6 separate regions of the Homo sapiens genome follow, and regions 2, 3, 4, 5 and 6 are each reported to be linked to region 1. Evidence: microRNA targets listed by miRTarBase, many of them from high-throughput screens and not tested one by one. Region 1 holds a microRNA gene; each other region holds the end of a gene's coding sequence.

Region 1 (5,287 bases):
AAACTTGCTGCATGAGGTTGCAGTGAGCTGAGATTGCACCATTGCACTCCAGCCTGGGTGACAGAACAAGACTCCATCTCAAAAAGCTAAAACAAGCTGCTGCATGCTGAGATGACAGCCCCATTTCTGCAGCTAACACTTGGGTTTTGTTGTTTGTTTGTTTTTTCTTGTTTTTTTTTTTTTTTTTTTTTTTTTGAGACGGAGTCTCATTCTGTCACCCAGGCTGGAGTGCAGTGGCGCAATCTCGGCTCACTGCAACCTCGGCCTCCCAGGTTCAAGCAATTCTCCTGCCTCAGCCTCCCAAGTAGCTGGGACTACAAGGACCTGCCACCAAGCCCAGCTAATTTTTTTTTATTTTTATTTTTAGTAAAGACGGGGTTTCACCACGTTAGCCAGGATGGTCTTGATCTCCTGACCTCGTGATCCACCCGCCTCGGCCTCCCAAAGTGTTGGGATTACAGGCGTGAGCCACCGCGTCCGGCTTGTTTGTTTTTTAAGACGGAATCTCACTCCCTCACCTAGGCTGGAGTTCTGTGGCACTGTCTCTGCTCCCTCTAACCTCTGCTTCCCAGGTTCAAGTGATTCTCCTGCCTCAGCCCCCTGAGTAGCTGGGATTACAGGTGTACATCACCACACCCAGCTAATTTTTTTTTTTTTTTGTATTTTTGGGAGAGGGGGGGTTTCACAATGTTGGCCAGGCTGGCCTCAAACTCCTGACCTCAAGTGATCTGCCCAACTTGGCCTCCCAAAGTACTGGGATTACAGGCATAATTACCGTGCCCAGTCAGCACTTGACTTTTCTTTTTTAAAAATGTCATTAATATTCTTGCCAGTTGTTTGTTGGCAACATTAATATTGTTGCCAGTTGTATGTAAGGACCTCCTGGGAGAGCGGTTTTAAGGAGAATCTAAAGTCAGCTCGGTATTTCCAACAGTTCCTAAAAGAGCAAAATCATGTGTTCCTTAATCTTTAATTAGAACAATCTGCAAGTGGTTCATTAATTAGAGAATTTTGTCTTTAAAACAGGAACCTCAGGAAGTAACAAGCAAGTAGGAAAAGATGACCCTTTTAAAAGAAATTATTCTTCTTTAGTCTATACTTATTGCATGACCTTAAAAACCAGGGGACAGGGAAACAGCAATGTGTTGGATCCCACAGGAGAGCTGGTTACATGCATCCCTTCTCAACCCCACGTTCAGTGATATCACATTAGTAGCTGGAAATTGACCATGGTGGAAGTCTTTACACCAGGGTAACTGGCAAACATGATAAAGCAAGCGTTTTTTTGTTTTGTTTTGTTTTGAGATGGAGTCTCACTCTTTCGCCCAGGCTGGAATGCAGCAGCATGAACTTGGCTCACTGCAACCTCCACCTCCCAGGTTCAAGCAATTCTCCTGCCTCAGCCTCCCAAGTAGCTGGGATTACAGGTGTGCACCACCATGCCCAGCTAATTTTTTTTGTAATCTTAGTAAAGCCAGGGTTTCACCATGTTGGCCAGCTTGTCTCAAGCTCCTGACCTCAGGTGATCCACCCACCTTGGCCTCCCAGAGTGCTGGGATTATAGGCATGAGCCACTGCACCTGGCCAAGCTGTTTTCTTTAGGGGGTAGGCTGGCAGAAGCCAGATTACTAGTATTCTGCTGGGAGAGGAGTGGGGCATGGAGGGGAAAAACTCTTACACTGATAAAATACTTTTCATTTTGTAAGTAGAGTCTAGCAAATAGCCACCAAGTGTTTCTGTCCCAAAGCTGATATAAACAGGAGGTCCAGCACCTGGGCCTTCCCAATAAACTCAAGACTTGCTAGAGTGAGGCAGCCACGGAGACTTCTTCTGGGGCTAACTACCTGGTCAGGGGCTCCCAGAGTGTAACCTCATTTTATGTATGTATATTGCCTGGAGATCTGAAGACCAGCAGGACTCCTCAACGTTAAACAAGTTGAGTGGATTGTTGGTGGGAGAGCCTTCCTGGCTTTGCCCCTGGCTAGTTATGTAACTGGACAAATGAGTGGCCTTCTCTAAGTCTCAGCCTCCAGTTCTGTGGAAGGAAGGACTTGAGCTAGATCGTATCAGTAGCCTCCTTGGGCTCTGATATTTTCTGACCCTATGAATTTGCACTTTGAAATTGCAAATGTTCCTAAGACACAATTGGAGGTAGAGGTAATGCCTGCAAAAGGTTAGTGAATGCTCATAAGTAGAAAACATTTATTACTAAAGCAAATTATTACTAAACATTTTAATATGCTTTGATCACTTTTTAAGGATACAGAAAAGGTAATTGAGATAGTAAAGATAAGGTGTTTGAGCAGAAGAGCAAGCATGCACTGGATAGTTCTACTTAGAGTGTGATCACGGTTAACAGTCATTTCTGTAGCATTCAGAGTACCTGAACTCATTATAAAATGTGTTACAATAGCAAAGATCTCAGAAGACATAATAGGTCATACCTTACTTTCTGAAATCCACACGCCTGCACAGACATGAGCAGAATGTCATTGACATGTACTAGGGAAGCTCAGTATTTATAGGAACTTTATTTATAGGAACTTCTTTCAGTAAATTTTCTCCATTAGGTGAAAAAATTTTTGAAAAAAAAAATGTATAACTTGCTTGGTTTTATTTGTTTCATATGACCCTCAATTTCGTGCATTAGGTTGGCGTTTTGAAAAGCTAGAGAAATTGTTAAATAATTTAAACATTTTGCTAAGTTCCCACCTTCACCTGTGAGAAGGGTCATTTTTTTTTTTTTTAATTCATTCATCTGCGCATTGAACAAGGGTAAAGTTCCGTGCCTAAAACCAGGTGTTCCTGGGTGGCCTGGAGGGGCTGCATCCCTGCAGGGCTGATTGCAGAGCTTAGAGCTACTGGTACTGGTCGAGGAAGAGTTGCAGGAAGGAGACAGGCAGTTCAGGAGGTGGCACTGCTGTGTGTGAGCTGTCTGTGTTTTCCTTCTCAGAGTGCAGAGAAGTGCTGCTGCCACTGCTGACAGACCAGCTCAGCGGCCAGTTAGATGACAACTCCAACAAGCCTGACCACGAGGCAAGCTCGCAGCTTCTGAGCAACATCCTGGAGGTGCTGGACAGGAAGGATGTGGTGAGTTGAGTCATCACTGATGCTGCACAGAGTTCACACTGTCCCCTTTGCACCAGACAGGAGTGACTCCGTGGCCTTCCTATTCTCAGGTAGTTTCCAGCTCCGGTATTAGGGCAGGCTGTGCCCATTTTAGAGATAATTAGGGAGGCCAGAGCCTCCAGTGCAAAGTCAGATTACTGCTGGGGCCTTCTGCAGGCTGATTTTCCTGGCTTGCCCAGTGTGCGCACTATTGAGATCCCTGTGACTTTTTTTTTTTGAGAGGGAGTCTCGCTCTGTCGCCCAGGCTGGAGTGCAGTGGCGCGATCTCGGCTCACTGCAAGCTCCGCCTCCCGGGTTCACGCCATTCTCCTGTCCCAGCCTCCCGAGTAGCTGGGACTACAGGCGCCCGCCACCACGCCCGGCTAATTTTTTTGTATTTTTAGTAGAGACGGGGTTTCACTGTGTTAGCCAGGATAGTCTCGATCTCCTGACCTCGTGATCCACCCATCTCGGCCTCCCAAAGTGGTGGGATTACAGGCATGAGCCATCGCGCCCAGCCCCTGTGACTATTCTTAAGAATCAAAGACCTGACTGGGCATGGTGGCTCAGGCCTGTAATCCCAGCACTTTGGGAGGCCAAGTCAGGAGGATCACTTGAGTCCAGGAGTTCAAGACTGACCAGCCTGGGCAACTTAGTAAGACTTTGTCTCTCTAAAAAATAATAATAATAATAAAAAATAAAGAATCAAAGGCCTTTCTGTTTTTATGCAGACACCTCTTCCTTCTTATCCTCTGATGCCTAACAACCTGATATTTCTGAGCTGCTGAGAAGTTCTCATTTCCATATCCTCTTGGACACTGATACTTTCTCTGGAACCTAATGGAAATTATGTTTTCTCATCTTGCGTTTTCTCTGTGACCTGGCCCCCATCCCTCTTGAAAACACAGGGCTAAGGCCGGGCGTGGTGGCTCACGCCTGTAACCCCAGCACTTTGGGAGGCCGAGGTGGATGGATCACGAGGTCAGGAGATCGAGACCATCCTGGCTAACACAGTGAAACCCTGTCTCTACTAAAAATACCAAAATTAGCTGGGCGTGGTGGCACGCGCCTATAGTCCCAGCTACTCGGGAGGCCGAGGCAGGAGAATCCCTTGAACCTGGGAGGCGGAGGTTGCAGTGAGCCAAGATTGTGCCACTGCACTCCAGCCTGGGTAATAGATTGAGACTCCAACTCCAAAAAAAAAAAAAAGAAAACATAGGGCTGAACCTGTCTGGATTCACCATGTCCTAGAAATAGTGCAGCCCACAGGCCTAGCAGAGCCCCCACACAGGAAGCTGGAGAACTTTGCAGAATGTGTTCACTCGAACAGTTGAGGGCTGAGAAAAAAAAAGCATCTTACCACAAATTATAGTTACCACGTCTATGGTGGTTTCATGGCACAGGTGTTCCCACAGAACAGGAAAACCACTCTTTGTCATCACCTAAAGTCTTTATCTTTCCAGTATCTTGGGATTCTGTCCTACCAAAGGATATGAATACTACACCTTTTCCCATAGCTAAACCGTTAGTTCACTTGTCAGGGTCCACCACCGTTTGACTACAGCCCACCTTTTCTCCTGCTCATGGTTTGCACTGGGATGTCTACATTTCTGTGAATCCACATTGCAGCCTCAGAAGTATGTGAGGGTACCATTGCCATCTCTAGCTGCTCCGCCAATCTCTGTCCCTCCACTTCCCTAAGCCCCTGTAGCCCACTTACTCTTTGCACTGCTTACTTGATATTTATTCATTATAGATCATTCCCCCTTTTTTTCATTAAGTATGTTTATAGAAACCACATTATAAAATGGAATACATTTTCTCAAAGCATGTTGCGATTGGAGATTTGGTTCCTAACCAAGGACTTTGCACCAAATACGTAAATGTGACCAATCACGTCATAAACTCAATACTTTTTTAAAAGTAACTCTTATAATTCAATAATTCCTTAAAATAATAAAGTAAAGCTCCACGCCCTATAAATTTGGCAGCAATGTACCTGGCACATTGGTTTAGCCAGGGATCAGTGTTCTAGAAATCATATGTTTATGATCCAAAGTTAATGTAAAACACAAGAATCAGAGCATTGGATTCTAGTCCCAATATTACCACTCTGCAGCTATTTGTCCTTAGTCAAATATCTCAGTGCCTCAGTCTCCTAACCCAGTCCATTGTATGT
Region 2 (3,168 bases), not on the chromosome of region 1:
GCCTCCTATAGTCTCACAGTCCGGCCAGCCACTCCTGCCCCAGCTCCAAAAGCCCCTGCCACACCTGGGGCACAGCTGGCACCTGATGTGAGACTGCTCTATGTGCTAGCCATTGCCGCGCTTGGTGGCCTCTGCCTCATCCTGGCCTCCTCCCTCCTCTATGTGGCCTGTCTGCGGGAAGGCAGACGAGGGCGCCGACGGAAATACTCACTGGGTCGGGCCAGCCGGGCAGGAGGATCTGCGGTGCAACTGCAGACAGTCTCAGGCCAGTGTCCTGGAGAGGAAGATGAGGGTGATGATGAGGGGGCTGGGGGCCTGGAGGGCAGCTGTCTCCAGATCATCCCTGGGGAGGGAGCCCCAGCCCCACCACCCCCACCGCCCCCACCGCCACCGGCTGAGCTGACCAATGGCTTGGTGGCACTGCCCAGCCGGCTGCGGAGGATGAATGGCAATAGCTATGTGCTTCTGAGGCAGAGCAACAATGGAGTACCAGCAGGGCCCTGCTCCTTCGCCGAGGAACTCAGCCGCATCCTGGAAAAAAGGAAGCACACGCAGCTCGTGGAGCAGCTAGATGAGAGCTCTGTCTGAGCCCAGCCTCCCAGAACAAATGCTCTTCCAAGCCAGCCTATCTGTCCCAGGCTGGGCCACTGCCTCCCTAACACAGCCACCCTCCCTTCATTACCCCCACTCCATACCCTTCTCCCAACTTTTTGATGTCCCTGTAGGGCTGGCCAGTCAGGCCCAGCCAAAGCCCCCTCCTCAGTCTCCACAGACCCACATGTGAGCAGCCCAGGCCCATCGGTGCTCCTCAGAGGTAGGTGCTCCCTCAGGATCAGGTGCCCTGCAGACCCAGAGCCAGTTCCTATCCCCTAACCTAAACACTTATAGGTGAGGACTCCATCCTCCTGTTCCATTCATCTGCCCAAACCCTTTCTCTTTCTCCCAGGCAGGGCTCTGCAGGTCCATATGGGCTCAATGTCACCACCCTCTGCATGGCCCTGTGTGCTGGATGGTCCTGAAACCAGACAAGACCTCTGCCAGCCACCTAAGCCCTGCGTACATTCACATGCACACATGGAAGAATGTTTATCGGCTGGGCTGCAGTGCCCCCACCCTCACCTTCTCCTGGTGCATTCTTGTTTCATCCCTGCTTCTGGACTTGGGGTACCCTCCCAATTGCCACATCCTATCTGGTCCTCTTCCCCAGCCCCATGTGGTGACCTCTTTGTCAAGAGCTTGGGAACGGGCCAGCCTGGGGAGGTAAGACTGCATCACTCCCCTCCTCTCCCTTCCTGTGTGGCCCTTGTGAATCAGCCTCCCCACTCTCCTTGGTCATTCTCAAGAGTATGAGAGACAGAGCTCCAGGCATGTCCCATCCCCATGCACATGTGGTAACACACACCTGTATCACACATGTGCTTACATTTCCACTCACATGCACCTCTGAGCCTCCCTTGCTGTCTTGGACCTGTCTGTTGGGTTTAGTCCGTGGACATTTCAGAGGGAGATCCCCCTCCCATTTAACTGTCCTCACAGGCCCTTGCCTAGGATGGATGACCAACACTGCACTCAATGAGCCAGCCTCTCTTTTGGGGGAATCAAGCATTTGCTTCCTCTAGACTACAGCAGGGAAAGGGAGGAGAAATCTGATGTCTCAACTGGCACATGAAGCCCATTCTTGGAACTATGCAAAGGGCAGAGGCTGGGAGTTTGGACGCTTAGCTCCTACCCCTGTCCTACCTCACCGGGGCACTTTCAGGGGCCAGGGGCCTCTGAAGTCTCTAGGCCTATATGGGACAATCAATTCTGACTGAGCTCCCCCATTCCCCTCGGGTGAGGATGACTGTTATTTTTGTAGCTGAGAACGTGGAATCCCACGGGTTTTTACTGCCCTTCACCCAACCTCTCCCACCTCCACCCCACAATGAATGTATTTATTGTGAGAATGGCTACACTTCTTTAGGAATGCCCCCACTTACAACCAGGTGGGTGGAACAGGCATGTGACAGAGTGGGGAGCCTGGGCTCAGCTCCTCCCCCTGCCGTTGGTTAATAAACACCCTTTTTCCCCACAGCTATGACTAGTCTGCTTCATCTAGATGCGCCCACCCCTGATCACCAGGGGACAGGCTCCTGAGCCTATACAGAAGGTGATATCTGCCTCCAGGATTGGCTCTGCTCCCCAATACAACTATTTGCAGAGGAAATTGGGATCCTCCGCTTCCATCCTGACTCCTTGGCAGGCACACAGGCCTCTTTAGTAAGGTTCACACTATTCATTGATCATGGTGTTAGGGCATGACAAGAAAATGACAACAGTTCAAGAATTCTTACAGGGGTTTCTAGATTTTCATTTCCTGCCTCTCATTTCCCCACCATCCCCCCTTTTTAAACTAAGATTAGAAAATACTCATTAATATCAGCCTTCCTGCCCTTCCCCAAGGTTCTCAGCACCCCCCACCAGCTGGCTCAAGGGACATGGATTTTATTTCTGCACAAAGAGGGACGTGGGGGGAAGGAGATGTATAGCTAAGACCAGAGAAAGCTTGTCAGCCAGGACTTGGTCTGAGAATCACTCCCCTCTCCCTTTCAGGGGTCAGGCCTAGATTAATCACTTGGCCTTTGATACTAACCACCTGACAGTTGTTATATGTTCTGCGTCTAGTTTTAAAATAATGAAAACTGAGGCTTGTGCTTAACATATGCACACATTTTGAAGACAGACCTGAAATGTGACCTTGGATAAGTTTATTAACCTGTTTTATAAATCTGTATTCACACAGATATAAAGTGCCTAGCCCATCACAGCAGAGCTCTCCGTAGCTCAGTGGTTGTTCCAATAAGACATCAGGGATTCTTCAGAAGCCAGCCTTCAGACCTCTCACTGTGTTTTGAGATCATTATTATCAATTTGGATTTAAAAAACAAGGGCCCTGTAAAACCCTTGAAGTCTTCCTCATCTCAGGTTTTAGGGATGCCACTTGCATAAAAATGAGTGGTTCACAAGGTCACTGCCCCCAGAAGCAGGCACTGGAAAGAAACAGGCAGCTCTTCATTATCCCAAGCAGAACCTCTGTCAACTTGCCCATTGATGGGTTCCATTTGCCTGGGCTTGGAATCCCAAAGGGGAAGAACCACCTTTACCGGAGTAACAGTCCAAAGCCTGGGG
Region 3 (5,287 bases), not on the chromosome of region 1:
CTTCCAGAAGTCTTTACCGGCTTTTATGTTAAGGCTTCAGTGTCTCATGCTGCTAGGGAAGATAAAGCTTTTGTAGGTCTATGGTTCTTAAGGGTATGATACTAAATCTGAGCAGAAGGGTGGCATCCAGGCAAATAGGGCAGAAGCTAGGTTATTATTTACACTGACTGTTCTTTTTCCCTTCCATGCAGTGCTCTGGTCTGGGGTCTCTCTGTGAAACACAATCCTCAGAAAGTGGGTAAAGACCATACGTTGGAGGATGAGGATGTCATTCAAATTGTGAAGAAGTGAAACCTTTCCCTTTTCCCATCTGCCGGACGAACCACAACAGCGTTCCCCATGATCAAGCACCCTACCCCAGTTCTTTCTGGTTTTGGCAGTCACTGGATCAGGATCCAGGGGAGGGAGATGGAGGCACCCAAACTGGAACTTCATTTGTCTTACCTTGGTGTCACCTTGTATGTCGAACTGCATAAAAGATCTGGTAGGCTGGTCAGCTACATGCAGCTCATGTGTCATTGTCAGAATTTGTTTTGGGATGGGCTGAATGAGGAAGGGTATATACGGTGAAGCAGCTACAGAAGGGATCCTTGGGAACTTCATCTTGAGTGTGAAATGGATAAAAATATGACATGCTGCATCTTACTTGATGTTTACTTATGGGAACCCCTTCCAAACTAGATATGGCTTTCAGTCCTTTCAAGTAGTCTTTCCCACATGATACTGGAGAGAGGAAGGACTTTATGTAAGTTAATTGATCACTCCCCGCAAGGCTAACCTATTTTGGGAGATCATGTAATTAAGTACTCCGACCAGGCAGATCAGGGTTTGAAATTGCAGGTCCACCTCTAGTTAGCTGTGGAGCCCTGAACAAATTACCCAACCTTTATGAGCCTCAGTTTCCTCATGTAACATGGGGATAGTAATAGCACTTACTTTCTGCGGTGGTGATTGTTAGTAATGGAGGGAGATGGTACTTATATGTCAAATACTGTGCTAAGCAATTTGTAAGTACTCAATGACTCTTGGCTTTTGTTGCACCGAGCCTTTTACTGGGCTGTCTGCCCTATGCAGAGCACAGCTGTACATCATCAGTGTTGGGTTGAATGTTGAGCTGAACTATGTTGCCACCTGGGCCACTAAAATGCTTTTTTCTTTTTCTTTTTCTTTTTTTTTTTTTGAGATGGAGTTTCGCTCTTGCTGCCCAGGCTGGAGTGCAATGGCATGATCTCGGCTCACCGCAACCTCCGCCTCCCGGGTTCAAGCGATTCTCCTGTGTCAGCCTCCTGATTAGCTGGGATTACAGGCAGGTACCACCATGCCCCGCTAATTTTGTATTTTTAGTAGAGATGGGGTTTCTCCATGTTGGTCAGGCTGGTCTTGAATTCCTGACCTCAGGTGATCCGCCTGCCTCAGCCTCCCAGAGTGCTGGGATTACAGGTGTGAGCCACCGTGCCCGGCCAACTAAATGCCTTCTTTCCCATAACCCAGACTTTCTGCTTGAATCCCCATGAAAGTCCTGGCTTCAGCCAATAACTTGGGCGAAGGTGCATTGCAAGTGAGGCAACTGGTGTGATCAAAGCAGGTTTGTGTGTTCACATATGTGTATATATGGAGGTGGGCGGTTTAGGAGGAGGCTTGGTGTCAGGACTACTTGAGAGGATGCTAAGGACATAATCAGATATTTGGGGGACTAGGAATATAGGAATTTAAGGGGATTGCTCTGATTATGTGAAACTGGTTGATGAAAATCTTGGTGTGGTGGGTAACAATATGGACGGAGGGGGCTGGGCCCAGTAGCTCACACCTGTAATCCCAGCACTTTGGGAGGTCAAGGCAGGAAGATCGCCTGAGCTCAGGAGTTCGAGACCAGCCTGGACAACATAGCGAGGCCCAATCTCTACAAAAAAATTTAAAAAATTAGGTGGGCATGGTGGTGCATGCCTGCAGTCCCAGCTGTTCGGGAGGCTGAGGTGAGGACTGCTTGAGCCTGGGAGGTCCAGGCTGCAGTGAGCTAAGATGGGCCACTGCACTCCAGCCTGGGTGACAGAGTGAGACCCTGTCTCCAAGAAATAAAAATTAAATAATTAAAGAATATGGGCAGAAGGGAGGGTATGGACATGTAAGTATGGGGGAGAAATCTTAAACTTGTTAACTAACTTGCTCTTGGGAAGAAGTCAAACATTATTTCAGTATGGATGGAGTAGTCCCTGAGAAAATCAGGAAGAATAGGTTTGCAGCAAGACAGAATTTGATTATTTCTTCAAATGAGGCAAGCCAGAGCTTTTAGCAGGTCATGAGTGATCACAGTGTGGGATTATTCACATACTCAGCCTCTCTCCAGTGCTTGTTTCTCCTGCTGCCCTAATAGCAGTTGTTTCCCTTTGATAGTCTTCCTGGAGCTTGGGCTTGTCACTGTCCCCAGACCTGGAAGGTAAGCTCCTGAAGCCTGGTATGCTAGTTACTTTTCAGAATATCGGCCTTGATACCACTGGTGCATTCATGATAGAGGCCGTGGTCTAGAGCCTGCCCCAACCCTGCAGGGGAACAGGGAAACATTGGCTTTCTGAGCTACGGGATTTCCAGGAAGGTTTGTTCTCCAGCCAGAACATATTGGGTTTCTGGGGACTCTTCTTGCCAAAATTCACTTTCATTGAGCAAGCATTTAGCACTGCCAGAATGTTGGGGAGAGAAGGTTGCTGAAATCCAGTTCATCCTAAGGCCTCAGGATGTTCTGTGAATAGGCTTTGTGTCCATCATTTAGCACCCTCCCCATGGCTTGGTCCAGGGACCCCTGGTCTCCTTGAGGAGAGAATTACCCTACCTTTCCCTTTCTCCTCTGGGCTTAGACTTAGCAGTTCTGGGAGAGGGGTATGTTTGGTATTGGGAATGCTGCCTAGGGTATGGCCACTGTGGAGGTACAGCTAAAGGCTTTCTCCTCATTAACTCTAAGACTTTACTGGTTTGGCTGTCATAGCATGATTTGAATTTCCTGTGCTTTTACATATTCCATGTTTCTTTCCTGACTTTATTACAAGTAAACAGATCCATTGTTCTGTGCCATTTAACTAGTTAGAACACGTTTAGCTGCATTTAGCAGAAAGTGCTAACTTAAGCGGCTGAAATGGAAGGGAACTTGGTCTTACCTTTTTGGGAAGCTGTTTTCCAGAAGCCACCCAGTTTGTTGTCTCGTGGCCTAAAATTGGGTCACATGTCTATTTTTGAATCAATTGTTGGTAAAGGGAATAGAATTATTGAAGAACCAGAATTTAACCCTGTAAGTTATCGTCATTCTTGGTTTGTGTTTATGCTCATAGTTCACAAAGGCCAATGGACCTCCCACTTCCCTTCCCTGTTAATAGAGTCTGGCTTAAAAGACACTCAGTAGCTATCTCCTAGGGGAAGGCCTAGCTGCACTCTCTGTTCACTTCATTCCCACTTCCTTTTACCACTGACCTCCCACAGACTTATTTAACTGCTTCCTTTGGGAGGGACTATTCTTTCCTCTCCTACCTGACCTCCCCTGCTTAACAGATTTTCCATGATATGCTTTGTGGTCCTCAGCTGTTTTACTTTCAGGATGCCTTCTATATCCTCAGCTTCTCTTAACTTTTATTTTGCACATCCTTCCAGCACTGATTGCTTGTGAACTCATCTCGTGCCTGCAAGACATCAAAAGTTTCTCCAAAGACATCCCTTCCTCTCTGCCCTCATCCTATATCAAGGTCTTAGCTCCTTGAAGACTGCATTAATGTGTCTTTTGCCTTCATCCCCCCCCCACCCTCCCGCTTCCTCTAGTCCTTGTGTTTACCAAAATACTTTTGCTAAAACCTGTATGTCTAGCTTCTGCTGATACTCTTAGCAATACTCCCTTATTTCCTTCTGGCGCCATTTGCCAATCACCAGCTAATGGCTTTGCTCTTTGCATGGTACCTGTTTCTGTCCTACTAGCTTCTAGTCTGAAAAGGAAGCCTTTACTAGCAGCTTCAACCCAGTCCTCCTTACCTTGCACCTATTAACGTTGGTTCAACATGAAGGGGAAGTAAGATAAGTGGAAGAGGATACACAGGAAAGGTGGAACTGGATTCAGGTGTCTGTGTTCTGCCATTGACACTTGGGACTGCGTTCCAGCTTCCACCTGTGGAAACCAGAAAGCATTTGCCAAAAATTCTAAACAGAGGGTCTATTTCTGAAGCTGAGGAATCACATGGAGTGAATAGCATGGGGGAAGGGGATTACTAATGAGGCTGAAAGAAAAGTACCAGGAAGAGACTGACTTCATGCATAATCCATAAAGCCAGGTTTTCTTGAAAGGTGACCTGCTTTCTTGTATTCCTGCAAGTACACGGCAGGGTGGGCAGTTCCAGGCTTATAGTCATTATTCCCTAACAAACGGTCAAGACTTAGGCTGCCCAAGACTCTACTACCCTTGTAGTCAAAAATCCAACCACCTTGACCTTTACCTCATTATCTGACCCTTTAGCATGGAGTCCTAAAATGGTCCTGAATGGACAAATATCTAGAACTCTGGTAAATTAACTTGAGTAGCATGGGAAATAAGTATCACCTCATAGCAGGACTGAAAAACCTCCAGTTAGGAAAGGGGACTCAGAACTGTACTGTATTCTGTAGAATCTTTATCCGTAAGTGCTATGTATATACTAATAGTTAAGGTGAATAATAAAACAATTGTGAGCTAAGGAATGTGATACAGAACACAAGGAGTCAATTAATGCATGAGTCTTAAGGGAAATTCTTAGACTTCAGTGGGTCTAAGCTCAGAACTCTGAGCTTAGAGAAACAGGATGCCCCAGTAAACATGATTTGTTTGAGAGAAACTACCATATGTAATAGATGATTCCTCAATAAACTGTTTTCACTAGGTCAGTTTAATCTTGGAAATTACACTATAGATATCCTGGTATTAGCCACAAGGCTATGCTATCTATAGGGTCAGTCCAGTATAAACTGACCTGTTGGGGTCTTTAAAGCTCAAGGAAAAAGGCCATAGTTGATTTCTCCTAAATCAAGATAGAGTCCAATTAACTTTTTTTTTTTTTTAAGATGGAGTCTCACTCTGTCGCCAGGCTGGACTGCAGTGGCGTGATCTCAGCTCACTGCAACCTCTGCCTCCCAGGTTCAGGCGATTCTTCTGTCTCAGCCTCCCGAGTAGCTGGGACTACAAGTGTGGGCCACCATGCCCAGCTAGTTTTGTATTTTTAGTAGAGATGGGATTTCACCATCTTGGCTAGGATGGTCTTGATCTCTTGACCTTGTGATTCGCCTG
Region 4 (5,287 bases), not on the chromosome of region 1:
TGCGTACCTTACAAGAATCTGATGCCTGATGATCTGAGGTGGAACAGTTTCATCCCCAAACCATCCCCCCATCCCTACTTTCAGCTCTCTTTTTCTAATGTAAATGTCATGTACGAGCGTTTGTTTTTTTTGTTTTGTTTTGTTTTGTTTTTGTTTTTGTTTGAGACTGAGTCTCGCTCTGTCGCCCAGGCTGCAGTGCAGTGGCGCGATCTACGCTCACTGCAAGCTCCGCCTCCCGGGTTCACGCCATTCTCCTGCCTCAGCCTCCAGAGTAGCTGGGACTACAGGCACCCGCCACCATGCCTGGCTAATTTTGTTTTTGTATTTTTAGTAGAGACGAGTTTTCACCGTGTTAGCCAGGATGGTCTCGATTTCCTTGACCTCGTGATCCGCCCGCCTCGGCATCCCAAAGTGCTGGGATTACAGACGTGAGCCACCGCGCCCGGCCACAATAGTTTTATTTGACGTCAGGACTGTTTTGTAGACCGAGGTGTGATAGATGTGGCACGCACCAGCCACGGTTTCCACCGTCCCCAGAGCGTGGAGAGGCAGCGCCACTGCTCTCAAGGTTAATGACAACTCAATAAAGCACTGCTTTTATTTTTTGCAGTCTTCAATTTGAGAAAGGCCAGAAATAATGTTTTCAATAAATATGGTTCATACCATTAAAAAAAAAAATCCCCCCGCGTCCACGGAAAAATTGTCTTCCATAAAAGCGGTCCCTGGTGCCAAAAAGATTAGGGACTGCTGCTCTACAGAAATAGAAATAGAAAAAACAATCCTAAAATCTATATGGAACCACAAAAGACCCCAAAGAGCCAAAGCAATCCTGAGCAAAAAGCACAAAGCTGAAGGCATCATACTGCCCAACCTCAAAATCTACTACAAAGCTATGGTAACCCAATCAGTATGGTACTGACATAAAAATAGACACATAGACCAATGGAACATATATAAATCCATGCATTTACAGCCAACTCATTTTATGTCAATACCAAAAGTACAAAGGTGCCAAGAACATTCAATGAGGAAAGGACAGTCTCTTCAATAAATGATTCTTGGAGAACTGGATAGCCCTATACTGAAGAATGAAACTCAACTCTATCTCTCACCATATACAAAAATCGCATCAAAATGGATAAAGACTTAAACCTAACACATGAAACTATGAAGCTACCAGAAGAAAATACTGGAGAAATGTTCCAAGATATTGATCTGGGCAAAAATTTTTTGTATAAGACTTCAAAAGCACAGGCAACAAAAGCAAAAATAGACTAATAGGATTATATCAAACTAAAAAGCTCTGCACAGCAAAGGAAACAATCAACAAAGTGAAGAGGCAACCCACAGAATGGAAGAAAATATTTGCAAACTATCCATCTGACAAGAGATTAATAACCAGAATAAATATAACAAGGAGCTCAAACAACTCAATAGCGAAAAAAACCCACAAAAAATCCTGTCTAAAAATGGGCAAAGCCATATGTGGTGGTGCTTGCCTGTAGTCCCAGCTACTCAGGAGGCTGAAGCAGGAGGGTTTTTTTGGGGGAGGGGGAGGGGGTGGGGAGATGGAGTCTCACTCTGTCACCCAGGTTGGAGTGCAGTGGCACAGTCTCAGCTCACTGCAACTTCCACCTCTGGGGTCCAGGTGATTCTCCTGCCTCAGCCTCCCAAGTAGCTGGGATTACAGGTGCTCACCACCATGCCTGGCTAATTTTTTGTAGTTTTAGTAGAGATAGGGTTTCACTATGTTGGCCAGGCTGGCCTTGAACTCCTGACCTCAGATGGTCCACCTACTCAGCCTCCCAAAGTGCTGGGATTACAGGCCTCAGCCACTATGCCCAGTCCCAGGAGGACTGTTTGAGCCCAGTTTGATTCCAGCATGGGCAACATAATGAGAACTCATCTCTTAAAAAAACAAAGCGGGGGGAGCAAAAGATCAAAATAGACATTTCTCAAGACATACAAATGGCCAACAGCTATAAGAAAAAATGCTCAACATCACCAATCATCAGAGAAATGCAAATCAAAGCCACAACAAGATATCACCTCATCCCACTTAAAATTTCCTATCAAGACGACAGGAATTAACAGATGCTGGCAAGGATGCAGAGAAAGAGGAACTCTTGTACACAGTTGGTGGGAATGTAAATTAGTACAGCCACTATGGAAAATTGTATAGTTTCCTCCAAAAACTAAAAATAGAACTACAATATGATCCAGCAAATTCCACTACTGGGTATGTATCCAAAAGAAAGGAAATCAATATATCAAAGAGATATATGCACTCTCATGTTTATTGCAGCACTATTCACAATAGCTAAAATATGGAATCAACCTAAGTGTCCATCAATGGATGAATGGGTAAAGAAAATGTGGTATATATACACAATGGAATATTGTTCAGCCATAAAAGGAATGAAATTCTGTCATTCTCAGCAACATGGATGAAACTGGAGGTGATTGTGTTAACTGAACTAAGCCAAGCACAGAAAAGACAAATATTACATGTTCTCACTCACATGTGGGAGCTAAAAAAGTGGATCTCATGGAGATGGAGGTAGATTGGTGGTTACCAGAGGCCAGGAAAGGTGGTGGGGACGTGAGGATGAAGAGTTTGATTAGTGGACACAAATACAGAAGAAATAAGACCTATGATAGATCAGTAGAGTAACTATAGCTAATGTTAATCTATTGTACATTTCAAAATAGGTAAAAGAGAATAATTCAAATAATGTTCCTAGCATAAAGACAAGATAAATATTAAGGTGAAGGACATCCCAATAACTCTTGATTTAATATTTACACATTATATACATGTATTAAATTATCACTTGTACTCTGAAAATACATACATCTATTACACATCAATAAAAAAACTCATCCATTAAATTCTGTATTATCTTTGCAACTTTCCCGTAAATCTAAATCTATTTTCAAAAAGTTTATGAAAACTCATCCATGGGAATTTAAGGTGGCTGAAGATAGCTGAACACAGTGTAACAGGAAATAAAAACTTTTTAAAAATAGATCAACATGGCTGGGTGCGGTGGCTCACACCTGTAATCCCAGCACTTTGGGAGGCCGAGGTGGGTGGATCATTTGGGGTCAGGAGTTCGAGACCAGCCTGGCCAACATGGTGAAACCCCGTCTCTACTAAAAATACAAAAATTAGCCTGGCATGGTGGTGGGCACCTGTAAATCTCAACTACTCGGGAGGCTGAGGCAGGAGAATCGCTTGAACCCAGGAAACAGAGGTTGCAGTGAGCTAAGATCGCACCACTGCACTCCAGCCCAGGCGACAGAGCAAGACTTCATCTCAAAAAAAAAAAAAAAATAGATCAATACATGCACGGAAAAGGAAAAGGGTTGGAAGAAGGGGTAAGACTGATTCTATGTTAAGATAGTAGAGTTACAGTTTAATTCTTTTGTTTTTTATTTAAGAAAAATGTTTAAATAGGGGCCTTATGTTAGGCACGGTGGTTCATGCCTACAATCTCAGCACTCTGGCAGGCTGTGGTAAGAGAATCACTTGAGGCCAGTTCAAGACCAGCCTGGACAACATAGTGAGACTCCATCTGTATAAAAAATAATTAGCAAGGCATGGTGGAGCGTGCTGGTAGTCCCAGCTATTCAGGAGGCTGAGGTGGGAAGATCAGTTGAGCCTAGGAGGTCAAGGTGAGCTATTATCACACCACCACACTCCAGCCTGGGTGACAATAGAGACCCTGTCTATAAACAAACAAAAAAACACAAGGGACTTGTATGCATAATGAAAGTCTAGATTTTTCAGAGGCCATGATAAGTCACTACAGGGTTCTAAGCAGGAGTAATAGGGCCAGTTTACATTTTTAAGATTGCTCTGGCAGCAGTGTGGAGGGTGGTTGGAAGGGACAGTTAAGATGAGAAGAGACCACAGCAACAGTCCAGGAAGAACAGAGGATAAATGATGACTGTCTGGAACAGAGGGGAAATGACAGAAACAGAAGTAAGAAACTCTTTGGGATATGTAATTGGGGACCTCAGACACCTTCCCAGCTGCTAATGTTGTGTTCTGGGTAAGGCTGCCTATCTTTCAACCTAGACTGGTCAGTCAGTATGTCCCATTGTCTGATGTTTTTAGTGTGCAAAGAAGTCGATTAGGTCCCTAAGATCCCCCCAAATCCTACATACACAGTAGGAAGGTATTTTATAAAATCCTTTATTTTATGAGTGGCAATCGTCACCTCCCTACCCAACACATAAACACACATACCCATCTAGTCTTTGTTTTCATCACATTTCCCAAACTGATCGCATGTCAATGTGACTCACATAGAAAATAAACAAGAGGGGCCCATCACATACGCCAAGTTATCAATACTCCTTTCACCATTTCTGCTCAATCTAGAAGACTCAGCTTGGAATTATTTTAAGATTTTATGTTATTTGCAATATTATGGAAAAGTAAGTTACCGACATTCACAAGGTGATAAGCTGCAAAGAACAAGTTTGTTTTGTTTTCCTTTTTAAATTTAGAATCTTGTTTACAACACATTAGCATCATTAACAGAAAAACGACCATTTACATAGTAACTAAAAAACCAGCCACTTAAGAAAATAATGTAGTAATCAACCACTACCAGAGAAAATAGGTCCTCTCATTTGATTTTACTGGTAAGTCCAGCTGTTTTCTGAACTTTGTGAGAGTCTCTGTCCTGAATATGGCAAAGCATTCAAGTAAAAGGTAGGAAGTTATAAGTGTGAGATTCTGAGGGATTCTGTCTCAAAGAAGGTTCAGGAATAGCCACAGTCCTCCAGTTTACTCGAACGTTGAGATGTTCCTGTGATGACCAGCATAATTTCCTTTTGAGGAATTTTCACAATTCATCAGCCTCAGGATTCAGGTTTTATAAGACATTCTTCCACATTAAAAAAAAAAGACTCTGTCCCATAGAAATAAGTTTCTCATCGCTTCTCCAGCTTCTTGTACTTGGCTTCTGTGAGGGATGAGGGAGAGTTACATCTTTTAAAACTGGCTCTTACAAAGACAGTTTTTAGTTAGCATTTCCAGTCAAGTTTAAAAAATATGTATAATATTACTAAAAATCTATTAGCTTCAATCTCATCATCTGTCCAAATATACGGATCACTGATCTGTAAAACTTGGAATAAGAATTCAAGCACAGACACTCAGAACTGAGAGCCTAACACAGGTTCACGAAGTCCTCACCCTGTCAACAGCACCTACTTAGACAGCTCCACCAGGATGGGGCACATCTGTCACTTGACCTATCGGGAGCCTTAC
Region 5 (5,287 bases), not on the chromosome of region 1:
CCTGGTGACACAGGCCCATCCTAGGCCCTGACTGCCCACCTCCAAGTTCCAGGCCACCCTGAGCAGGCCCCAGTGGCAGCTTTGCACAGAGAGGGCAGCCTGCCAGAGTTCACACAGGAAAGCAAGTTGCTGGGCAAGCTAGAGTGAGTCCCAGCCCCGCTGTGCTGCCCGAGGGTAGAGGAGCGTCAGGCGTGCTTCCTGTCTGTCTGCAGCAGCCCGGCTGGCCCAAAGAGACTCTAGGGACCCAAGCTCTGAGTCATGGCTTCCCAGGCCTTAGTCAGAACGGCCCCTGGTGGCACTCCCTTCCAAGGGGTGGGGAGCAGGGCCTGTCGACTTGCTCCTGACCCACACACGGAGCCAGTCCCTGTCCCAGCTCTGCCCCAGCTCTGCCGCCGCCGCTCTGCTGCGTGACTCCAGGAACCCCCAGCCTCGCTGAATCCATGTCCGCAGAAGAGAAAAGCCTGCCAGGCCTTGGCCTGCCCTGTCTGGGAATCCTTGCTGGAGCCACCCCGAAACACCCCTATGGGAACCCCTTTGGTCTTTATCATTCTTGGGTGTTTTCCACTGATGACTGCGGGTGTGCCCAGTGGCAGCTGGGCCTGAGCTGTCAGCCCAGGCAGGAGACAAACAAGCCTGTGACTCAGGCAGGGCATGGCACAGCTGGCGGAAGGAGGCATGCCTGTTCTTTGTGGCTGGGCGGGGGGTTATCCGGACACAGGGAGTCTCCAGCTTCCGGCTTTCCCACCTCGGTGCCCCCAGCCCACACCTGCAGCTTGGCCATGGTTCTTGGGGCCTCCCAAGGCTGCCCCTGCTGGCAAAGGCATCCTGATGCACCCGCCCCAGGGTGAGCCAAGGGCAGAGACACCCAGAAACGCCAGGCTGGAAGGTTGGAGAGCCCCTCCTCGCCCCCCGCAACACCAATAAGCCCTGCCCCACCCTCCAAGCCCTTGGGGTGAGCCCCATCACCAGTGACTATAACTGAATTTCAATGCAGAATATTATACAAATTAGTAGTTTATTTCTTCCTTTAGTATTACAGTTCCAAAACGTAACTTGAAGGTCAGCACAGGAGCTGCTGTGATATAAAAGGAGAGAGTCACCTGGCGCCCCCTGCAGTCCTCCAGTTGCCCAGCAGCAGTGGGACGTTCAGTGGCACACAGTGGGTCTCTGTATGGCCTCCCACCTGCAAGGACTTCCCCGGGCAGGCCCAGCTGCCCAGAAGCCCCGGAACACACAGGAAGACAACACTATAGGATGGCAGGTGGGGATCTGTGCAATACAAACATGTAGCTAGAAAACCCAACCGAGGATCTGTCTAGAATACTTCCGATATCAATATACCGTAGTTGAAACCAGAACCGTCTCCAGCTGTCAGCAGTCTTGGCGGCTACTGTACAGCTGTCAGCATGACTACAGGCAGCGCCCGAGGCTATCTGGGGTAAGAAGTGGGCCTGCACATCACATCGGTGAGTCAGTGAGAGTCAGGGCCAGAGGGAAAAGCAACTCGGAGGCTGAGGCTGGCACAGATACACACAAGGGAGTCACACACATAACATAATAACTTGTTATATAAAATAGATATGTGGAATCTAGAAACACCTTGAGAAAATAGCCTATAAAAATATAAACTGTAGTGAGAGTGTACAAAAGTATTAACAGAGGTTCAACCCATAAAAAACCCCATCCATTTAAAAGTTGGCAATTCCTAGCAGGTGTTGGGAGGGAGCTCCCCTCGGTCCTGGTGCGCACGTTTGGACAGGCCTTTGGGTTTCCCAGCTGGCAGGGTCCCCCTTGCAGGGGCCACGGGCTGGGTGTTGGGGTGAAGGTTCAGAGGAGGAACAGCAGCTTGGGGCAGCCCCTGTCAGAAGGGCCCCCTGCCATGGCAGCCAGTGGAGGCCAGGGACCTTCAGGGCACTGGAGGGGACAGAGCAGCTCTTTCCTCAGTGACCCGAGGGAGGGGAAGTGTTAGCGCAAAAGAGTGGGGCCCACAGTCCTGGAAGGAGGAGTTGGCTCCGTCCCGTTCCCAAACTTTAACCAGGCGGAGCCGCCCTCTCTTGCCTTCTGGACACGCATCACTTGATTCCAGGCAGGAGAACCTCTGAGAAAGTGTCCCCAGTCCCTTTCCTCCAGGAACTCTCCTGCTGTCGCACACACACACTGCCCGGCAGCTGCTGACAACTGCCTGGAAACACTAACATACCACCGTGGGTTGCAGCCACGACGGGCCCCTGGTCAGGTGCATCTCTCAGGGCAAACTGGACAACACGAGCCTGTCCCTAAAGGCAGCTCTTAGCCCCAGGACATGGCAGTGTGTGCTGGCATGTTCCAGGGGCCATTGGCTCGGAAAGTAAAACCTCAGGGCCCAGCCCCATTCCTGCTGCACCTCCTCAGCAGCCGCCCCCCAGGCTGACAGCTGTCGTTTCACGATGGGCTGAGGGGTGGGGGGGGTTCCAACACTTGATTCGAGCAGACTGCAACGCCCAGCTCACAGGACAACTGAAGGAGTCAGACCTCAAACTGCTGCTCTCAAAGACAAAGACAATGACAAAACCCATTTTTGATGCCTGAAAAGAGGCAAAGGCTTCTGGCTAAATATAGAGGCCAGCTCCGTCTACCCAGTGAAACATTAGTGGAGTTGGTTAAAGACACGAAGCCGGAGCTCACTCTAGCATGTGCTGAAACACCAACTTTGCCGTGGCATTGCCAAAAAGTTGACAGCAAAAAATAGGAAAAATACTTCTTAAAACTGCATTGCTTCAATTCTTAGTCTCAGTGTGTTCACAACAAAGGATGATTTCCAGTTTTTTTCGGGTAATATGAAACATTCCACTGAGATCATTTATCTTGTATTTTCATAACACTGTGCCAGAAAACATCCTCTCACATCTACGCATCAGGGATGGTCTAGAGCGATTAAGCAAAAACAAGCTCCTTGCTCAAAGCCTCTCCCCAGCCTTCAGAAAGGCAGTCCTCTGAGTTCCCAGAAACTGCTGTGTCAGAGGCAACAGTGCCCCTGCATCCTGGCAGAGAACAAGGATGTTCCAGGCAGTGGTGGGGTGGGCACACATCTGGGAGAGCTCACCCAAGCCTGCCCCAAGCAAAAAAGTTTCCCAGCCCCAGGCACTGGCAGCCGGCCTCCTGCACAACCCAGGCAGGTGGAGACACCAGGAGCACTGGCCATCCCCAAGGAGGCCATGGTTTTCAGCTGTCCAAGAGCGTTCACGCTGCGGCTGCACCACTGCCCTGCAAAGCACCCCCGAAAACATTCCTCCATCCCCTCAACCAAGGCCAGCCCAGGCGTGGGCCTGCTTTGCAATATGACGGTCCACTGTTTACTTGGAATCCCATCCCATCGTACTTGGTGAATGATTTCCACAAGTCAAGAAGGGCATTCCACAGAATCTCACAGAGCCATGCCTGGCACGGGGCAAGCTGGGGACAGAGCAGCCCAGTGATCTGCAAACACAGGCTGGCCATGAGAAGTGAGGGTGGGTGTCTGGGCAGCCAGGCCCTCCCCATGCAGGCTGGAAGACACTGATGGAAGGGTTGCGTGTGGAAGAGCAAAGGCTATTCTAGAAATGGGGCATGGCTGGCAGCTTAAAGCCACTGGTGGGAGGTTCACAGGCTTTCCTACAGTGGCCATTTCTGAACAAGGGATGTGCCTGCTTTTCTAAGGCAGCCCCTTTTCATACCAACCTTATGCCTGAGGCAGCAACCCTCTGGCCTACAGGTGCCTAAAGCACAGCTGGCATCCTTTATAGCACTGCCATTCAAAACCACACACCACTGCCCACTATGTACAGGAGAGAGAATATGGGGAGATGCCCAGCAAAGCAAGGTTTCAGAGGGTCAGAGCACCGACAGGCTGACGGAGGCTGGAAACAGGCTCTTGCAAATAGCCACTGGTAAGCCTGAGGATCCACCAACCAGGCAGAAAGCGTGACTGAGATACGTGTAACCAAAAGCATGGCACGGAAATGGTTGTAAACAGATTAGACCTCCCACCCCTGCCCCCCGCACAGTGGGAAATGAGGAAGGGCAGCCTGGCTTGGGACATCTGCCCAGCAGATCCCCAGAGGACACACACGTTACATTCTGGCTTTTAAGTGCACTTTCACCCTTTGGGCACACTTTGGTTGTGAAGGAAGGAAGAGCAGCATCCCGAGCCCACTCAGGTATCCTCCTCCTCGTCACTGACCAGCTCACCCTTGTCAGGGCTGGTGTCCCGCTCACGCAGGAAGTCCTCACGGATGGCCTCCAGCTCGGTCAGCTCCAGCCGGACTTTCTCCAAGTGGTAGGCGCGTCGGTTCCGGATCTGGCGTAGGGGGAAAGGGTTCAGGTCCCCAAAGGAGATACTGATCAGCTTCCTGGCAGGACGCAGGGGAGAGACAAGAGAATCAGCGGCGCTCCAGAGAGTGCTCACACACAGCCCTCACAGGCATAGCAGGTGGCCTGGGGCAGGGTGGGAAGAGCGCTGGCCAGGCTTGGGGCCTGATGTAGGGGATGAGGCCCACCTTCTGTAGAGAGGTGACAAAGCACAATGGCCCAGCCAGGGGCAGGCTCAGAATGACGACCTGGACTCCAGCTCTGCCACATGCTTGCTGTGTGACTGAAGTCACCCCCCTTTTCTGGCCTCTGATCTTCATCTGCACACTGGGGTAAGAGTAGTGCCACCTCCTAGGGTGTGGGATTACTCGTGTTCCCACACATAAGCCCTGAGAAGAGCTCCCGGCACTTGCATGGTGATGGCAGGTATGTCTTCATCCTTGGGCGGGCATGAGGCCTGGCACCGGGCACGAGTCCGGGACGTCTGTGTCCCAGGACTCATTGACTGGGAATGAACACAGGCCCAGGCAGTCCTGGCGATGACTGTCAGACCCAGTTGGCAATGTGACAAGTGTCCAGATGCAGTCTACAGAGAAATGTGCAGCTTGTGGGTTTCACATCCCCAGGTCAAGGCTCCAATTTTCAATAAAAATGTTAAGGTTATGATCCACTTGCTCCTAACCACTGGTCAGTGGCTTAATAAAAACAAGACCAAAAGCTGTCCTGAGGCCTGGCTATGGATTTGTAGCACTAATGGGTCAGCCACACTGGTCTCTGGGGATCACAAAATAGGCCAGTTCCTAGGGCCACCTTCTTCCCCTCTCTGGATTCTGCCAGGCCCCAAATGCTTTGTATCCACCAACATGGGCTCATGCGCTTCCCTGTCAACCAAAGGCCCAACAGACTCACCAGCCCCAGGAAAAGCTGTGATGAAACAGAAATGCCCCGAAGGACTTCCTGC
Region 6 (5,287 bases), not on the chromosome of region 1:
TAAAAAGATATAATAGGGTTTGATTTGATGAACAATCTAGTGGCCTTAGAAGAGGGGTGATTAAATAGCAATAGAAGGGCTATTTTCTAAACTAGATGTTTAAGAAAAGATTAAAGGGAATAAAGATGTATCAAGATGCAGGGAAAGGTGTGTTTCTGATTCAGTAGAACATTACTGGGTATCCTTTCTTCCAAATTCCTAGTACCTGACAAATAGCAAAAATAATAATAATAATAACAATAAAATAAAAAAAAGCAACACTCCAATGCCCTTTTCTTTTTTTCCTTTTTTTACTTACATTAAATACATCGGTAAATCAGCAGTCGCATTCTGTTACCACGATTGTTATGTTGGGAGAGGAAGAAAGGCAAATGCTTTCTCAGAAGCAAAACAAAAACAAAAAACCACAACACCCCCCCTTAAAAAAACTGACCAGAAGAAAAAAATGAGCTGGGAAATAAACAAAAGAAAACTAAGATCCCCAAGCCCAACAGAGCTCAAAGGAAGGCAGAAGAGGTGGTAGGAAGTAGAGGGAAGGCAGCCGATAGGCCCAGAAGCTAAGGCCAAATCCTGTTCCTATGGGGGTGGGGGGAGGGAGAAGCCTGGGGAAGTGGTTTCCCAGGCCCAAGATAATGAAACATCTTCACTCCTGCTCCAAGGGGGAAAGCTGCACAGAGAAAGAACTTCATTTCTAGAAGACTTTGGAAAGCCATCCTAGTTCTTCCACTTGTAAAAAGGATGCACTGGGTGCTATGGGGGGCCAGTGGCTTCTGGGAAAGGAAGGGGGAAATGTGTGTGTTTCAGGGCCATGGGAACTAAGGCTGCCCCTGGAAAAGGAAGGGAATTGAGGCCTAAGTGGAAGAACCTAAGCTGGGTCCTTCAGAATCTCAGCTTCATAGATTTCTCAGCTGTTCTGGGATAGAAGGCAGTCTGCAAGCCAAAAGGGCAGGAAGGTTCCAATCCTAGGTCACTGTGACCTTTCCTTTCTTTCTTTCCCAAAACTCCGGGCTGGAACAAGGAACTTAAAGTTCTCTTTTGCCTTGATGGCTTCTCAGAGACATCTTAAAACACCTGATGAAGGATATGAAGAGAGACTAGAGATTTAGAAAGGACCAAGGTCCTCTGATAATATGAGCCAGTTGTAAGGTACCTTCAGTGCCGGTCATTCCCTCTCCACAGGAACAGGTGGTATGATACGAGGGCACCACAGGAGGCCTCTGTGGTACTAGCCCCTATTGGTACATGGATTAAACCACTGGTTGCATGATGGGGAGGGATGGGGGGATTAAGGATGGAGGGACTAAATTCAAGATATTAACAAAGGAACAAAGAAACAGGGCCTGATGGGAGGCAGAGGATAGAACAGACTGTACAGTGGGAATAAAGATCATACCTATTTACAAGGAAGTAGAAAAGACATGGTAATGGATATCAAATTGAGTGTGAAACCTGGGAAAGGACAGAAAACTCCTCCCTTTTGCCTGACCTCCTTTTTACTCCCCTACCTTGGCCTGTGCTATCCTGAGACACTCCTCAATTGCTCAATTAATTCTCCAGGAAAGGCAAACCTATAGTCAATAGTTAGCTTGGCAAGAATATAGGTTAATAATTAGAGTTGGAGGAAGCTAACAGTGGAGATAGGACTTGAGTAGCTGCCACTGGTAGTTTTATCTATAACCTCTCCTCGAACCTCGCATTAACCTCAGATTTCATTGAATTAAAAAGAAGGTGGGAGGGCAAGTAAATCAATCAAAACTTCCATAAAACAAGTACCCCAACTGAACTACCATCAATTAAAGTGCAAACTGCAGGGGTATATGGTGGCTGGGGCTGAGGCCATCTAAAGGCCAGAGGGGAAAAAATGCATATGTATAAATCAGAGGATGGGTACCAGAAACTGTCCCTCCTCCAATCAGATCACAGCAGAGCCAAAGATGCAGGCAACCAGTGAAAATTCTTTGGAAGACTCTGGGGTCCAACCCCCACGATTAGGGGAAACGCTACCTAAGAGGCTGCGTGAGGGGAAACTGGGCCTTTGAAGAGTTACAGAGCCACAGTTGACACTGCACCTCCACCTCCGCCCAGTTAGCTTACAAGGCACCTCCTGCCTGGTGCCTGAGATCTTGCCTCCCCATTCTCACCTCTACCTAGGAACACCCTCCACAAGGCCAAATCATGGATACCGCAATGTTTTCAAATATGAGAAACTCCAACCAAATAAAAACAAAAAGGAAATGTTTCCTTACTCCCTCCTGCTCTGAGCTTTATTCTCCCCCAGGGCCCTTAATGTAAATGAACTGGAAACCTCCTTCCTCAGTTCCTGGGTTCACCACTTTCTGCATCCTGGGGAGAGGAGAAAAGAGGCTCAAGAACAGGGACTGACCAAAAGCAGAAGGGGAAGGGACAGGAGTCAGAAGTGTTTTCTGAAAAAATGGGGAGGAACACTAGGGAGGAGGAGAAAAGATACGTAAGTCGCTGTCTTGTACCTATAATACAAAGTGAAGAAAGTTTGTTTTGGAAGGTAAGTCCTGGGGGGAGTTGACCCCCAAGCCCCAGAGTAGGGGGTAGGAGGCCAGTGGCAACAGCTGCCTGGTGTTTGTTGCTGAAGCGTTAAAAAGTGCCATGACGGAGCTGTCAGGAGGCAGCCCTTGGGAGCCAGGGCTCAGTGTGCTGTTACCGTAGGGGTTGTGTGCTGAGGGGTAGGGATGGAGGTTATTTCTTAGCTCTTGTGCTAGCTCCATACTTGTTTGCTGCTAGCCACCCCCTCAGTTGCTACAACACTGGCTCTTGTTCTGCTGGGACTGTTCATGGAGATCCACACCCCGGCTTCGGCCTGCTGCACCTCCCAGATTCTGGGGTTCACTCTTTGGCAACTTCTTAGCTAGAGATAAAAAGAGAAGAGAACAAAGTATGGTAGACTTTACTTCCCTACCCCTCTGCCTCCACCCGCCAAAAACGGCTACTGAATTGGGGAAAAGGGAGAATTTGAGAGATTAAAAGAATGTTCTGAAGATGGGAGGGTTCACTATTTGCAAACTTTTTTTTTTTTTTTGAGATGGAGTCTCGCTCTGTTGCCAGGATGGAGTGCAGTGGCACAATCTCGGCTCACTGCAACCTCCACCTCCCGGGTTCAAGTGATTATCCTGGCTCAGCCTCCCAAGTAGCTGGGACTACAGGTGTGCGCCACCACGCCCAGCTAATTTTTGTATTTTTAGTAGAGACGGGGTTTCACCACATTGGCCAGGATGGTCTTGATCTCTTGACCTCGTGATCCGCCCGCCTCGGCCTCCCAAAATGCTGGGATTACAGGTGTTAGCCACCACACCTGGCCGGCAAACTTACACATTGAAGACAAGGGAGCTAAAGCTGCAGCCAAGGATGGAGGTCATAACAGAAAGTTAAGGTATTTCCATACCTAAAGTTTTTGCAAAAGGAGATACTCGCACCTATCCTTGATTTGGGTTAGCTATAATTTTGCCTATAAACGAGGGAAAAAGGAGGACCTCAGGATGTTCTGACCTTACCTATTGCCAGGAAGAGATCATTCACGTTCATAGCTGTCTTGGCTGAAGTCTCCATGAACAATAAGCTGTTGTCATCTGCATATGCCTGGGCCTCCTGCAAGGAGTGGGATGTATTAGTGCTCAGAATGTAGGGTGGGAACGAGTATTGCCTTTCCACTCCCATGCAGCACAACAGCTAGGCAAAATCCTAGGTTCCCTCCCCTTAATTAATACCCCTTTGAGCCAGCTAGCCTAGATGCATAATTTAATGACAACTCCCTCAAGATGACCCCATGTCCACTCAGTCCAACACACAAATGTCAGAAAGCTTAATTATAGGGGAGAGGGTAAGTTAGTTGGGGGCTTTTGGGTTGTGACACTTGAATAGTCCCTTACCACAAATTTAATTGCTCCCTCCTTCCTGTTTTCACACTGGTACCCCCACAGCTGGTACCTCCCTAACCCTCTGCTCTGGAGTTTTCTCCTGACTCCTTTGAAAATCTCCTGGCTGTCATTAGGGTCACAGTGTTGCTGTATTTAACTTGGTGTAGAACTGGGGAATGAGACAATGAATGTCCTCTGTTGACGTTTTCAGAGAGGGCTGGTTTGGAAAAAAAGAGGTCCCAGGAACAGAGGAAGTGTTAGAGAGGAACTCCACGGGCCACCTTACTTCATACTCCACCATACGTTTGTTGGCCAGGTCAGCTTTGTTCCCTGCCAGGGCAATAACGATGCTAGGACTGGCCTGTCGCTGTAGTTCCTTCACCCATGTCTTTGCTCGGGCAAAGGTTTCCTAGGAAAACATGAAGAGAATGAGTAGGCTGGAATGACTGCCAATCCATATCCATCACCTTTTAAAATGAGTCTCAAAATTCACCTCTTCTAGGTGGTCTTCCCTCAGTGAAACCACAGGTCTCTGATAATTCATTATCTGTCTTCTTAGCACTTGGAAGCATAATTTGTACTCTTATTTGCTATTTCAAGAACCCGTTTTCTGCCCCCTTACCCCCTGCCCCAAACTAACTCCTCTAAATATAAGCAAGGACAGTCTTTTTTCTTTTTTTTTTGAGGCGGAGTTTTGCTCTGTCGCCGAGGCTAGAGTGCAGTGGCTCGATCTCGGCTCACTGCAACCTCCGCCTCCTGGGTTCAAGCGATTCTCCTGCCTCAGCCTCCCGAGTAGCTGGGACTACAGGCGCGCACCACCACGCCCAACTAATTTTTGTAATTTTAGTAGAGACGGGGTTTCACCATGTTGGCCAGGATGGTCTCAATCTCTTGACCTCATGATCCTCCCGCCTTGGCATCCTAAAGTGTTGGGATTATAGGCGTAAGCCACCATGTCCAGCCAACAAGGACAGTCTTCTTAGCTCACTTACCTGATTAGTAATGTCGTAAACCACGATTGCAGCTTGGGCACCCCTGTAGTACATGGGGGCTAAGCTGTGATATCGCTCCTGCCCAGCTGTGTCCCAGATCTCAAACTTCACTGTTGTGTCATCTAGACAAACGGACTGGGTGAGGAAGGCCGCTATGGATGAGAGAATGGAGGGGAAGATGCTGTAAGTGGGAGGATGAATGGGAACATCCCTCCCCCCCTTCAAAATGTAACTGCCCTACACTAAGACCAGTCACCACCCAGGATAGTCAGCTACAGGAAAAGGTTTTGAGTTCTCCTTACATGTAAGTCTTGAAACCAGGATTAAGACTGCCCTTGGCTAAGTCCTTCCTGCCAGAAATGTCACTAGCTAAGGAATGGGGGTACATCATAAACTAAGAGGGACAGA

The links. The annotated mature microRNA hsa-miR-6876-5p reads CAGGAAGGAGACAGGCAGUUCA and lies in region 1 at 2,886-2,907, shown strand. An mRNA with a match to its seed (bases 2 to 7 or 8) in the 3' UTR can be bound and repressed. Matches are read on the target gene's strand: a 7mer-m8 pairs with bases 2 to 8, a 7mer-A1 pairs with bases 2 to 7 and ends in A, and an 8mer does both.
Region 2: miRTarBase lists SEMA4G as a target of hsa-miR-6876-5p. Seed matches in the 3' UTR shown: 7mer-m8 at 1,288-1,294.
Region 3: the mRNA of DRG1 is a reported target of hsa-miR-6876-5p. The part of its 3' UTR that is shown has no 7-base or 8-base seed match.
Region 4: miRTarBase lists BLOC1S2 as a target of hsa-miR-6876-5p. Seed matches in the 3' UTR shown: 7mer-A1 at 4,728-4,734 and 8mer at 4,178-4,185.
Region 5: the mRNA of TBC1D2B is a reported target of hsa-miR-6876-5p. Seed matches in the 3' UTR shown: 7mer-m8 at 4,143-4,149 and 7mer-m8 at 4,032-4,038.
Region 6: the mRNA of RAB5B is a reported target of hsa-miR-6876-5p. Seed matches in the 3' UTR shown: 7mer-m8 at 948-954, 7mer-m8 at 835-841, 7mer-m8 at 778-784, 7mer-A1 at 521-527 and 7mer-m8 at 502-508.

The regions. Positions count from the first base shown.
Region 1 is chr8:25,342,522-25,347,808 of GRCh38, forward strand. It overlaps MIR6876 (microRNA 6876), which reads left to right and starts at 2,881; the gene lies at 2,881-2,953. It overlaps DOCK5 (dedicator of cytokinesis 5), which reads left to right. Exons shown (of 52, transcript NM_024940.8): 26 at 2,954-3,090. RefSeq lists enhancers at 2,830-2,889, 2,872-3,166.
Region 2 is chr10:100,983,544-100,986,711 of GRCh38, forward strand. It overlaps SEMA4G (semaphorin 4G), which reads left to right. Exons shown (of 15, transcript NM_017893.4): 15 at 1-2,073. The coding sequence ends at 588. MRPL43 (mitochondrial ribosomal protein L43) reads right to left here. Exons shown (of 3, transcript NM_032112.3): 3 at 2,726-3,168. Among named protein-coding and RNA genes, the nearest start is that of MRPL43, 2.4 kb to the right of the region's middle.
Region 3 is chr22:31,433,681-31,438,967 of GRCh38, forward strand. DRG1 (developmentally regulated GTP binding protein 1) reads left to right here. Exons shown (of 9, transcript NM_004147.4): 9 at 192-772. The coding sequence ends at 291. It also overlaps a transcript of EIF4ENIF1 not described here. Among named protein-coding and RNA genes, the nearest start is that of DRG1, 37 kb to the left of the region's middle.
Region 4 is chr10:100,270,515-100,275,801 of GRCh38, forward strand. It overlaps BLOC1S2 (biogenesis of lysosomal organelles complex 1 subunit 2), which reads right to left. Exons shown (of 5, transcript NM_173809.5): 5 at 2,779-4,979. The coding sequence ends at 4,948. Among named protein-coding and RNA genes, the nearest start is that of CWF19L1, 5.5 kb to the left of the region's middle.
Region 5 is chr15:77,993,989-77,999,275 of GRCh38, forward strand. TBC1D2B (TBC1 domain family member 2B) reads right to left here. Exons shown (of 13, transcript NM_144572.2): 13 at 997-4,367. The coding sequence ends at 4,172. It overlaps LOC91450 (a long non-coding RNA gene), which reads right to left and starts at 237. Exons shown (of 1, transcript NR_026998.1): 1 at 1-237.
Region 6 is chr12:55,989,691-55,994,977 of GRCh38, reverse strand. It overlaps RAB5B (RAB5B, member RAS oncogene family), which reads right to left. Exons shown (of 6, transcript NM_002868.4): 3 at 4,880-5,031; 4 at 4,174-4,296; 5 at 3,525-3,618; 6 at 1-2,881. The coding sequence ends at 2,766. Among named protein-coding and RNA genes, the nearest start is that of SUOX, 4.9 kb to the left of the region's middle.